Regions from separate parts of the Homo sapiens genome. Here regions 1 and 3 are each linked to region 2. Evidence: fine-mapped expression QTL. A gene starts in region 2. Each other region holds a variant in brackets. All regions are shown on one strand. Distances are between the middles of the regions.

What was found. PIP is the estimated chance that this variant, and not a neighbour inherited with it, causes the effect. A credible set is the group of variants that fine-mapping cannot tell apart.
Region 1: its variant is the best candidate, but not a certain one, in a credible set for the expression of CRHBP in whole blood (TOPMed, PIP 0.55).
Region 3: its variant is the best candidate, but not a certain one, in a credible set for the expression of CRHBP in iPS cells (HipSci, PIP 0.52).

What each region holds. Positions count from the first base shown.
Region 1 is chr5:76,911,604-76,915,839 of GRCh38, forward strand. All of the region lies in intron 4 of S100Z (S100 calcium binding protein Z), which reads left to right. Among named protein-coding and RNA genes, the nearest start is that of CRHBP, 39 kb to the right of the region's middle. The variant G/T (reference allele first, on the strand shown) is at 2,692.
Region 2 is chr5:76,950,713-76,954,948 of GRCh38, forward strand. CRHBP (corticotropin releasing hormone binding protein) reads left to right here and starts at 2,333. Exons shown (of 7, transcript NM_001882.4): 1 at 2,333-2,503; 2 at 2,889-2,982; 3 at 3,317-3,474. The coding sequence starts at 2,423. It also overlaps a transcript of S100Z not described here. RefSeq lists an enhancer at 3,059-3,745.
Region 3 is chr5:76,872,388-76,876,623 of GRCh38, forward strand. It overlaps S100Z (S100 calcium binding protein Z), which reads left to right. Exons shown (of 5, transcript NM_130772.4): 3 at 2,917-3,113. The coding sequence starts at 2,973. Among named protein-coding and RNA genes, the nearest start is that of S100Z, 24 kb to the left of the region's middle. The variant T/TC (reference allele first, on the strand shown) is at 1,648.

The DNA of each region.
Region 1 (4,236 bases), 39 kb before region 2:
CAGGCACTCTGGTCCTTCAGTATGTGGATAATTTACTTTTGGCTACCAGTTCTGAAGCCTCATGCCAGCAGACTACTCTAGATCTCTTGAACTTTCTAGCTAATCAAGGGTACAAGGTGCCTAGATCGAAGGCCCAGCTTTGCCTATAGCAGGTCAAATATCTAGGCCTGATCTTAGCCAGAGGTACCAGGGCCCTCAGCAAGGAACAAATACAGCCTATACTGGCTTATCCTCACCCTAAGACATTAAAACAGTTGCGGGGGTTCCTTGGAATCACCGGCTTTTGCTGACTATGGATCCCTGGATACAGAGGGATAGCCAGGCCCCTGTATACTTCTCTTTATACATCACAGAGAGTGCAGGGCTAGCTCTTGGAGTCCTTACTCAGACTCGTGGGACAACCCCACAACCAGTGGCATACCTAAGTAAGGAAATTGATGTAGTAGCAAAAGGCTGGCCTCACTGTTTAAGGGTAGTTGCGGCGTTGGCTTAGTGTCAGAGGCTATCAAAATAATACAAGGAAAGGATCTCACTGTTTGGACTACTCATGATGTAAATGGCATACTAGGTGCCAAAGGAAGTTTATGGGTATCAGACATCCGCCTACTTAGATACCAGGTGCTACTCCTTGAGGGACCGGTGCTTCAAATACATATGTGCATGGCCTCAACCCTGCCACTTTTCTCCCAGAGGATGGGGACCCAATCGAGGATGATCACCAACAAATTATAGTCCAGACTTATGCCACCCGAGATGATCTCTTAGAAGTCCCCTTAGCTAATCCTGACCTTAACCTATATACCAATGGAAGTTCATTTGTGGAGAGTGGGATATGAAGGGCAGGTTATGTCATAGTTAATGATGTAACCGTACTTGAAAGTAAGCCTCTTCCCCCAGGGACAAGGGCCCAGTTAGCAGAACTAGTGGTGCTTACCTGAGCCTTAGAACTGGGAAAGAGGAAAAAAAAATAAATGTGTATACGGATAGCAAATGTGCTTATCTAATCCTACATGCCCATGCTGTAATATGGGAAGAAAGAGAGTTACCTCTGGGGGGAACCCCCATAAAATACGACAAGGAAATCATGGAGTGATTGCACTCAGTGCAAATACTCAAGGAGGTGGCAGTCTTACACTGCCAAAGCCATCAAAAAGGGGAAGGAGAAGGGAGAACAGCAGCATAAGTGGCTGGCAGAGGCAAGGAAAGACCAGCAGAAAGAAAAGAGAGAAAGAGACAGAAAGAGAGAGAGAGAGGAAGAGACAGACACAAAGAAGGAGTCAGAGAGAGAGAGAGAGAGGAGAAGAGACAGAGACAAATAGGGAGTCAGAGAGACAGAGAGAGTCAGAGAGAGGAAGAGACAGACAAAAAGGGAGTCAGAAGGAGACAAAGAAGAAGTCAAAGAGAAGAAAGAGAGATGGAAGTAGTAAAGAAAAAACGTATACCCTATTCCTTTAAAAGCCAAGGTAACTTTAGAACCTATAATTGATAATTGAAGGTCTTCTCTGTAACCCTATAACACTCCAATACCACCTTGTTGTCAGTGTAAACAAGGGCGTAGCCTGAAAGCACTGAGGCCACTGACAACCCATAGCCTTCCTATCAAAAATCCTTAACCCAGCAGGTTTCCTAACAGGGGATCTAAATCTTAACTAATTACCATACAAAGGTCCGATCAGACCAAGGAGGAACTCCCTTCAGGACAGGAAGATAGATGTTTCCTCCCAGGCGATTAAGGGAAAAAGACACAATGGATATTCAGTAAGTGATAAAGAAACTCTTGTAAAATCAGAGTTAGGAAAATTGCCTAATGATATGTCTGCTCAAACCTGCGAGCTGTTTGCACTCAGACAAACAGAATCAGGAAGGAGCCATCTTATAGAATCAGGAAGGAATTATCTATACCAATTCTAAGTTAATATGGACTGAACAAGGTTTTATTAACAGCAAAGAAAAAATCCCAAACTTACAAGATTTTCAACTAAAGTTTGCTAAAAGTTAACAGTGTAACATGTATTATCCTACTACCACACACTCTCAAAGGATTTCTCAGACAGTTTGCAAGAGATAACAAAATCTATCCTTACTCTACAATCCCAAATAGACTCTTCGGCGGCAGTGACTCTCCAAAACCGCAGAGGCGTAGACCTCCTCACTGCTGAGAAAGGAGATCTCTGCACCGTCTTAGGGGAAGAGTGCTGTTTTTATACTAACCAGTTAGGGATAGTACGAGATGCTGCCCGGCATTTACAGGAAAAGGCTTCTGAAATCAGACAACACCTTTCAAGCTCTTATACCAACTTCTGGAGTTGGGCAACATGGCTTCTCCCCTTTCTAGGTCCCATGGCAGCCATCTTGCTGTTACTCACCTTTGGGCCCTATATTTTTAACCTTTTTGTCAAATTTGTTTCCTCTGGAATCAAGGCCATCAAGCCACAGATGGTCTTACAAGTGGAACACCAAATGAGTTCAACCAACAACTTCTACCGAGGACCCCTGGACTGACCTGCTGGCCCTTCCACTGGCCTAAAGAGTTCCCCTCTGGAGGACATTACAACTGCAGGGCTCCTTCTTTGCCCTTATCCAGCAGGAAGTAGCTAAAGCGGTCATCGGCCAAATTCCCAACAGCAGTTGGGGCATCCTGTTTAGAGGGGGGATTGAGAGGTGAAGCCGGCTGGGCTTCTGGGCTGGGTG[G/T]GGACTTGGAGAATTTTCTGTCTAGCTAAAGGATTGTAAATGCACCAATCAGAGCTCTGTGTCTAGCTAAAAGGTTTGTAAACACACCAATCAGCACTCTGTAAAATGGACCAATCAGCTCTCTGTAAAATGGACCAATCAGCAGGATGTGGGTGGGGCCAAATAAGGGAATAAAAGCTGGCCACCCAAGTCAGCAGTGGCAACCCGCTCAGGTCCCCTTCCATGCTGTGGAAGCTTTGTTCTTTCACTCTTCGCAATAAATCTTGCTGCTGCTCACTCTTTGGGTCCGCACTAACTTCATGAGTTGTCACACTTACCGTGAAGGTCTGCAGCTTCACTCCTGAAGCCACTGAGACCATGGACCCACCAGGAGGAAAAAGCAACTCCAGACGTGCCACCTTTAAGAGCTGTAACACTCACCGCGAAGGTCTGCAGCTTCACTCCTGAAGCCAGCGAGACCACAAACCCACTGGAAGGAACAAACAACTCCTGACGCACCACCTTTAAGAGCTGTAACCCTCACAGTGAAGGTCTGAAGCTTCACTCCTGAAGTCAGCGAGACCACGAACCCACCAGAAGGAAGAAACTCCGGATACATCTGAACATCTGAAGGAACAAACTCCGGACCATCTTTAAGAACTGTAACACTCACCGCAAGGGTCTGTGGCTTTGTTCTTGAAGTCAGCAAGACCAAGAATCCACTGGAAGGAATCAATTCCGGACACATAAGGCCGGGCACGGTGGCTCACGCCTGCAATCCCAGCACTTTGGGAGGTCGAGGCAGGTGGATCACGAGGTTAGGAGATCAAGACCATCCTGGCTAACACAGTGAAACCCCGTCTCTACTGAAAATACAAAAACATTAGCCGAGCATGGTGGCAGTCACCTGTAGTCCCAGCTACTCGGGAGGCTGAGGCAGGAGAATGCGTAAACCTGGGAGGCGGAGCTTGCAGTGAGCTGAGATTGTGCCACTGTACTCCAGCCTGGGTGACAGAGTGAGACTCCATCTCAAAAAAAAAAAAAAAAATGCTGGGCGTGATGGCTCACACCTGTAATCCCAGCACTTTGGGAGGCCGAGGCGGGCAGACCACCAGGTCAGGAGATCAAGACCATCCTGGCCAACATGGTGAAACCCCCTCTCCACTAAAAAAAATACAAAAAAAATTAGCCAGGCATGGGGGTGAGCGTCTGTAGTCCTGGCTACTCCGGAGGCTAAGGCAGGAGAATGGCGTGAACCCGGGAGGTGGAGCTTGCAATGAGCCGAGATCACACCACTGCACTCCAGCCTGGGCAACAGAGCGAGACTCCGTCTCAAAGAAAATAAATAAATAAAAAATAAAAATAAATAAATAAATAAAAAAGATAAAGTGGTAGGCTTAAGCCCAAACATATCAATAGTTACATTAAATGTAAATGGTTTAACTATAAAAATTAAAATACAGTAACTAGCATAATGGATTAAAAACATGCCCTAATTATATGTTCTCTACAAGAAACTCACATCAAATACAATAACGTATGTTGAAAGTAAAAGGACAAAAAATT
Region 2 (4,236 bases):
TCTGAGTTTTCCCAGAACATATTTAAAAAAAAAATCCAGTTTGCTTGAACAAACAACTTTCAAATATTAAGCTAATTGTTTGAATGACCAAAGCAGTCCATGAAAATAATTTATCCTTAGTCTTCACACATAGGCCTACTTATTGCCCAGAAAATTTTTCTTCGGCCTAATCCAAATTACTCTTCCATTTCTCTCACCTATTTTTAATACTTTCTCTCAGAGAGAATGGCTACCTGGCTTCTCCTTGTCTTCCAATTTAATCTTCTTAGTTTTTCTCGATAGCTTGTAGTTTCCATCTTTTAATTACCATTAATTTTTTTTTTTTTAGAAAAGGTAGTTTCCACTGGCTTAGTAGATATTTACCAAACTGGTGAAAACTACACATTAATTTATCCACCTAGAATTTGGTGGGAATGAGGTCCATCTTGTACTATAATTTGTGGATTAAGTAAAATCAGATGCTATGCTATGATGTTTGTAAAATCAGTCACTATGTTAGTGCTCATTCATCCCAGCTCTTGCTGTGTGTGGTTCCTGAGGAGTGGGCATCATGACAGCAGGGTGGGAACATCACTGTTGTCTGTGCACGTGCATGCGTGCATGTGTGTGTGCACATGTGCACATGTGCATATGCTTGTAAAGGGGCTGGCTGGAGAAGAATGTCTCCTTGGTGATGCTAACAAAGCAACATTGAGCTGGAGTGACATCAGGTGCCAGACCCCCTAAGAGGTAAAGGCAGAGGTCTCCAAGGTGGGTGCTGGACTGAATTCTGGGAACAGGCCAAGGGCTGTGGCTACATCAATGGGAAAGAGAAGAGGGCCTGTGGCATGCCTGGTGAGTGGGCCTAAGGCTCCCTCTAGGCACAAAAAGGGTGGGAGATAGAGCTGAAGATGGCCTGGCATGTTTGAGGCCAGCAAGTTGGGGTTAAGTTGTTTGTTTTTCTCCTCTTTTATTCCTCCCAGGTTTCTTTATAACCTTTTCAAAATTCAGGCATCTAAACAGCCCTTGGGATGAGAAGGACATGGTGGCCAGTGTCCATGAGCTTTAGGTACTCTTTTCCCTCTCACTGTCTGTGGTCTGAGGACTGCTTACAAAGTTGGACTGTGGCACGAAGGCCTCCTGATTAAACCAACAAAGAGGCCGCCTCTCCAGAGCTCAGAATTGTCCTGACATGAAAATAATCAAGTTCTGACACTGCCAGGATAATTACTGTTTAATTTCGAGTATTTTAAAACTGAAAATATAGCCATTCCTTCCTTTATAACTCTGTATTATGGTCTATTTGTAATAATTGTAATAACAATGCTTGGTGCAGAGACTGGAAAGGGGTAGGAAAGCCAATAGTGGAGCATCCTCATGTTTCCCACAGTTTTGGACACAAAGAAGAAATTCTCTTCTCTCCTGATAAGCAGAGATAAGCTTATACTTATTTCCGGATCCCTAAGTCATCTTTTTAGCCCTGCAAATTTGCTGGTGAGCAGTTACAATAAAGCTTCCTGGCAGTTCCTTCTACCAGAGTGTTAAAGTAATCCAGGTATTTGAAGGCACGAAATGGAATGACTTAATCTCATCTCTCAGTGGTTCAGATGGATGCGAAGGTCATGGCTACAGCTACCTGGTCTAGGAGTGTGTACATCATGTAAACATCCAGGTCAAGTGACAGAGCTCAGCTAAAATCCAGAAGTCCCCTGACACCAGAGTTAGTTTTCCATGAAAGAAATGCCTATAAGAAACTGGACCAGGATAAAGCAAAGAGTAAGGGGCAGGAAGAAAGCTTATAATTGCATTACTGCAATCTTCTGCAAAATCAGACTTCTGCTTCTGTTCCACCTCTTTAAAGCTGAAAATGCCTCAAGTTTCTTACTGAGAGACATGAGAAATTCCATGAATACTAAATTCTTTGACAATTTCTAGCATGGTTTCATCCAAGGTTATGTGATGAGGCTGCATAATATAGGCTCTATATGTTTGGGTATTTTATGCGTGTATGTAACTTTGTCACTTTGATTTGCAAAATGGAAAATTCCCTGAATGCCCACAGAAAAGTATAATGTAGCATTTAGCAGGTCAACAAAATGCACTCCCTTATTCTTTGTCTCCGCCTCATTCTCCAACACTTTAGTGCACTAAGTTGTAGTGACTGAAATCATTCTTGGTGAATAATGCTGGGCCACGCTGAAAATTTGTGGCTGAGAGCTGGACCCTCGTCATCGCCACGTACTCTGTCAATGAGACAGGGTAACCCATGGTTACTGAGCTCCGATCAGTTAAGGGGCAGAGAGCCTCCGCTCCCCACTGCTCTATAAAAGAGACCCAGCAAAGGGACCCTACCAGCTTCTAGCTCTCAGTCTGCGCGAGGGTGTAGGAAGGAAAGCCCAGGACCTCCGGAGCAGAGCACAGCAGCTGCAGAGGCAAGGCCAGCATGTCGCCCAACTTCAAACTTCAGTGTCACTTCATTCTCATCTTCCTGACGGCTCTAAGAGGGGAAAGCCGGTACCTAGAGGTGAGCCACCCCTGGACTGACCCATCTCACCTTCCTTGCGTGTTAGCCCTAGGCGGCAGGCAGGCTGCCTCTGCTCGCAGCCTTTTGGGGTTCGCTGTTTCTTCCCTCTCTGCTGGATGCTGTCTTGCCCCTGGTTTCCCCTATCCTGTTCTCCCTCCTTGCCTCTGAGCATCCCAGACTGCCTGCCTGCCTTCCTCTGGCCGCTGGGGATACCCTGGCCTGATGGAGAGGGTCTAAGACCTTCCCGTCTTCTCCGGACACGGGAAAACATTACCCCTCTCTCTTTATTCGCTATGCTGAGTGGCAGGGAGGGTGCCCCGCTCCTGGTCCCCTTTTTTATCCCCAGCCCTTGAACTTTTCCGGACTGACCTATGTTTCTTGCCAGCTGAGGGAAGCGGCGGACTACGATCCTTTCCTGCTCTTCAGCGCCAACCTGAAGCGGGAGCTGGCTGGGGAGCAGCCGTACCGCCGCGCTCTGCGTGAGTCGAGGCTGCCCGGCTCGCGGGCGCCCGGGACGCGGGGAAGGTGGGACTCTGTGCGGGGGGCAGAGGGCTCGCGGACATCTCGGGGAAGGGGCTGGCCGGAACCGCCAGGGGCGCGGTCCCCTTAGCTAAGGATCGGTCCGCGGAGGCGCGCCAGGAGCGGGAGAGGGTGGCGCGCCCGGGGCGCAGGAACCCAGCGCAGCCTAGGCTGGAAGTCGGGGCGCTGGGCACTACAGAGCCCGGGAATGGGGCGCGCGGAGAGCGGCCGCCCGAGGACGGCGCTGCGGCGGCTGCAGCCCGGGACTTATTGCCCCATGCCCTCCTCCCCCAGGGTGCCTGGACATGCTGAGCCTCCAGGGCCAGTTCACCTTCACCGCCGACCGGCCGCAGCTGCACTGCGCAGCCTTCTTCATCAGCGAGCCCGAGGAGTTCATTACCATCCACTACGACCAGGTCTCCATCGACTGTCAGGGCGGCGACTTCCTGAAGGTGAGGCGCCCACGGCCAGCCAACCTAGCCGGAGGGCGGCACGGGAGGGTTGGAAAGGGCTGGGGCGCTGCACCCAGCGTGGGGCTGCTGAGCGTAGGTAGCCAGTGGCACTTCTTAGACACTTCGCTGGTGCCCGAGTCGGAGAGGCGCGTTCGAGGACCCCCACACGGCGAGAATCTCGCCCTTACCCGAAGACCTCGACCCACACACATCCAGTGGGGCTGGGGCCGGTGCCTCTGGACGCTGCCATGGTTTAAATTCCCTTCTGGGCGCTTTCGAGGCCCTAGGAACTTCTAAAGACTTGAACTCGCAGCGCGGAACTCTGACGCAATCCAGGGCCGAGGAAAAATGATTAAAACCCAACAAGCTCGAGTGCTGGGGTCCACCAAGCGGGCCGTCTTGGTTAGAAGGCCCGCCCCACACGTCTCACATCTGAGCCCGCCTCGCTCCTGCTGGTCCACGCTCGGCAGAGCCGTTCCGAGAGCACAGAGGCTGTCTTCAGTGCGCGGGTGACCCGATTTTGGAGCAGTAGGGGACTGGCTGCCGAGGGGGCATCTAGATTGAGATAGGTGGGAGGGCAGGACAAGACCCCTAAGCTCACTGCCTCCTCGATTCCAGTCGTCAGACTCCATAAGTATAACAGGGCAGCATGGGATGGCTGATGGAGCTCTACTGTCCAATTAAAATAATCATGATTAACATCTCCAAAGTAGGATTATTTTGGAACCTGTCACATGCGTTAGAAATAATTTGTAGCTGGGT
Region 3 (4,236 bases), 78 kb before region 2:
AAGGTGGCTAAAGCCTGTAATCCCAGCACTTTGGGAGGCCAAGGCAGGAGGATCACTTGAGGCCAGGAGTTTGACACCAGCCTGGGAAACATAGGGAGACCCCATATCTACAAAAATAAAAAAATTAGTCAGGCATGATAACATGTGCCTGTTGTCCCAGCTACTCAGGTGGCTGAAGCAGGAGGATCGCTTGAGCCTGGGAGGTTGAGGTGCAGTGAGCCATTACTGGGCCACTGCATTCCAGCATGGGTGACAGAGCAAGACTCTGTCTTAAAAAAATAAATAAAATAAGGCTGGGTGCAGTGGCTCACACCTGTAATCCCAGCATTTTGGGAGGCCAAGGCAGGCGGATTGCGTGAGCTCAGGAGTTCAAGACCAGCCTGGGCAACATGGCAAAACCCCATCTCTACTACAAATACAAAAATAAAAATAAAAATTAGCCAGGCATGGTGGTGTGAACCTGTAGTCCCAGCTACTTGGGAGGCTGAGATGGAAGAATTGTCTGAGCCCAGGAGGTCGAGGCTGCAGTGAGCTGTGATGGCACCACTGCACTCCAGCCTGGGCAACCAGAGTCAGACCTTGCCTCAAAAATAATAATAAATAAATAAATAAAATAAATATTGTATAGAGTTTGTTTTTTCCATTCTGAGTAGGTGCTATGGTCATCCCCATTTAGACTAATGGGGAAAATGCAGCATAGATGCTAATTGACCAGCACAGGATCACACAACTAGTGGCAGAGGTGAGAGGTAAAGCCAGGCAGTTCATGCTTTTAGCCACCATGATACTGCCTCCCACACAGGAAAAATTTACAAAGGGTAATTACTAGGGTAGGGAATGGTGAGAGAGAATTTTACTATTTCATACTCCTAAGTATTCAAAATATTATTTTACCTATATTACTTTGACAATAAAAACTAACAATTTTTTTTTTTTTTTTGAGACGGAGTCTCACTGTCACCCAGGATGGAGTGCAGGGACGTGATCTTGGCTCATTGCAACCTCCACCTCCTGGGTTCAAGCAATTCTCCTGCCTCAGCCTCCCGAGTAGCTGGGACTACAGGCGTGCACCACCATATCCAGTTAATTTTTGTATTTTTAGTAGAGACAGGGTTTCACCATTTTGGTCAGGGTGGTCTCGAACTCCTGACCTCAAGTGATCTGCCTCCCAACGTGCTGGGATTACAGGATTGAGCCACTGTGCCCAGCCTGAATATGTTTGAAAATTTTGTGTTAGGTGTACAGTGAACACCTCCTGGGAACCTTGCAGGGAGGTTGCAGTGGAGTAGCCAGGCAGCAAGGCCAGGGGCAGATGGGATGGTTGAGGTTACATACTGACTACTTTGTTGAAGGGAAATAAAAAGGAGATCCTGGCTTGCTTTCCGTATAATTAAGTTTCAGTCCTGAGAGAACAGGCAGGATTTAAAAGCACAGTGGCCAATATCTGGCTTTGGTTTTTACATGGACTCTTTCTTTATTAAGTTTCTCTCACTTGGAAATCTGTTGTGGATTCCTGCACACACAGCTGCTCTGAGGTTTATTTCAACTTTTTTATTAGGTAATACATTCCTATAACTGAAAAAGTTAAAATCACTTAAAAAGGTGTACACTGGGAAGTCTTACTCCCAACCACTCTGTTCTACCCTT[T/TC]CCCCCCTTACCCCTGACAGCTCCCAACATAGTATTATATTTTGTTTCCTTTCAGTGACTCCTTAGGTAACTGCAAGCACACATACACATGTATTATTTCTTTTTTACACAGTTGGGAGCACTGCTTTGTACCTTTCTAAATCAGTGCGTGGAGCACTTCCTCTTTTTTTTTTTTTTTCAACTGTCCTTTGGGTTAGTTTAATCTACTATGAATTTACTCCCTTGTCCTTGCTATTGGCTTTGCTGAGTCATCTCCAGGTTGGAACTAGTGTTTCTTCTTTGCTCCCCTATTTTTAGAGTTCTTCCCCATCATCAGCTTCCTAGCAACTAATTGCATTTCTATCCACACTCCCCTAAAGAGAGATAAGGCTTCCTCTTGCTTTGTCTTTGCCTTCTTATCTAATGCACCCAATGAGCACTAGCCTTCTTCAATGACCCTTGGGGCAGCAGCTCACACCTGTTCATTTTGGTGATTAAATACGGAGCAGAGGCACCTCCCTTTGAATCTCTTGTCACTGGCAATTTTCATCTTCCCGGAAACAGGTGTGCTGGGGAGAACGTTTCCCCCTCCCCCACGTATAAATGCTTATAGTTTAATGGTAAACAACCATTGACAGAGCTGTGTATCTGTTGAACAGGTAGGTATTTTCCTTCCTATTTTTATTTATTTTTAAATTCTATATTTTAGTTTGACTTTGTACCTGTTACCTGGTTGTCTTATGAATATGCTGGAGCTGCTACCTCTTGGGGGTGTAGGGATTAGCGAGGAGAAACAACTCAGCTGCGAAGTGCTTATTTGCAGCTTGCCCCAGCAAGGGTGGAACACTCTTTAATGAAAGACTATTATTATTATTAATTTTTTTTTTTTGAGACGGCGTCTCGCTCTGTCGCCCAGGCTGGAGTGCAGTGGCGCGATCTCGGCTCACTGCAAACTCCGCCTCCCGGGTTCACGCCGTTCTCCTGCCTCAGCCTCCTGAGTAGCTAGCTGGGACTACAGGCGCCCGCCGCCGCGCCCGGCTAATTTTTTTTTGTATTTTTAGTAGAGACGGGGTTTCACCGTGTTAGCCAGGATGGTCTCGATCTTCTGACCTTGTGATCCACCCATCTCTGCCTCCCAAAGTGCTGGGATTACAGGCTTGAGCCACCGCGCCTGCGCAGACTATTATGTTTTTAACAACCATCACTTGTGTGGCGAGCTGACTCGGGGGATTGTAATATTCTGTTTTAATGAAAGTGTTGGTGTTTCCTCATCTGTTTATTCTGAACAAGTGTCTTCTCCCCGGGTTTGGTGGCCTGCTTCTGGAGTGGTCAGTTCTGCTGCCGACATGCCCACCCAGCTCGAGATGGCCATGGACACCATGATTAGAATCTTCCACCGCTATTCTGGCAAGGAAAGGAAGAGATTCAAGCTCAGCAAGGGGGAACTGAAACTGCTCCTGCAGCGAGAGCTCACGGAATTCCTCTCGGTGAGTCAGGCCTTTGTAAATGCTGTATTCATTTGAGGGTAGATGAGGTGCAGATTCCAGGACAGCCTTTGGGTTCATACTGTCCTGTGATTCTGTCACAAATGCAGCCAAATTTGTACAGAGATTCAAAATATAGGGGAAGCAAACACTGGAGACGTTTGTTTTCTGTGTACATAGGCATGTGCCCTTTTTCGTGTTACCTGGGGTTAGGGTTTCTAAGTGGTAAAAATTGTATTTTTGACTTTCACCAATTAACATTCTGGTGCGGCAAAGATGTAGCTAATTATAGCCAGAGTTATAGTTATAACTAGTTACAGCTAGTTATACCTGGAGCTTGGTCCAGCTGTCTGTAAATTATGTATTGGGCCAGAGGTGAAGGGGTACTTTACCTTCAGAGGTGGGGTACTTCATGCTATGGTGGCAAATTTTCTAGTGAATGGCAAATACTTAGAGAGCTTTGTCAGCCGAGCACAGACTGATTGGGATTGATAGAAGGATGTGTTTGGCCAGTGACCAGTGGGGTAGCAAACAGATTCATTTCTCAAAATAGCCAGGAGTTTGAGAGATTAATATATGAAGCCGTACATTGTAGCGTTTGGGGCCTCCTCCAAGGAAAACACTTCACGCTGGTGTTTATAGAGTTGACTTAAACTGATTTTTAGCACAATATGCTACCCTCGTGTGATGTTATTCTCTCCAAACCTTGTGTTAAGACTACAGAGACTGTTAATTACAACACATGTTTCTCCCCACCCTCTATTTGGGAAAAGCTCTATAAAGTATTTTTTAACTTAGTCTTCACGACATTTTTATAGTGATCTTAGAATTCCCACAAACTTTTCTTTTCCTCTCATTCCGTTTGGCTACTGTATTTTTTTTTTTTTCGGAGATGGAGTCTTGCTGTGTCTCCTAGGCCGGAGTGCAGTGACACGATCTCGGCTCACTGCAATCTCCACCTCCCAGGTTCGAGTGATTCTTGTGCCTCAGCCTCCGGAGTAACTGGGATTACAGGCATGCACCACGACACCCAGCTAAGTTTTTTGTATTTTTAGTAGAGACAGAGTGTCACTATGTTGGCCAGGCTGGTCTCGAACTCCTGACCTCAAGTGATCTGCCTGCCTCG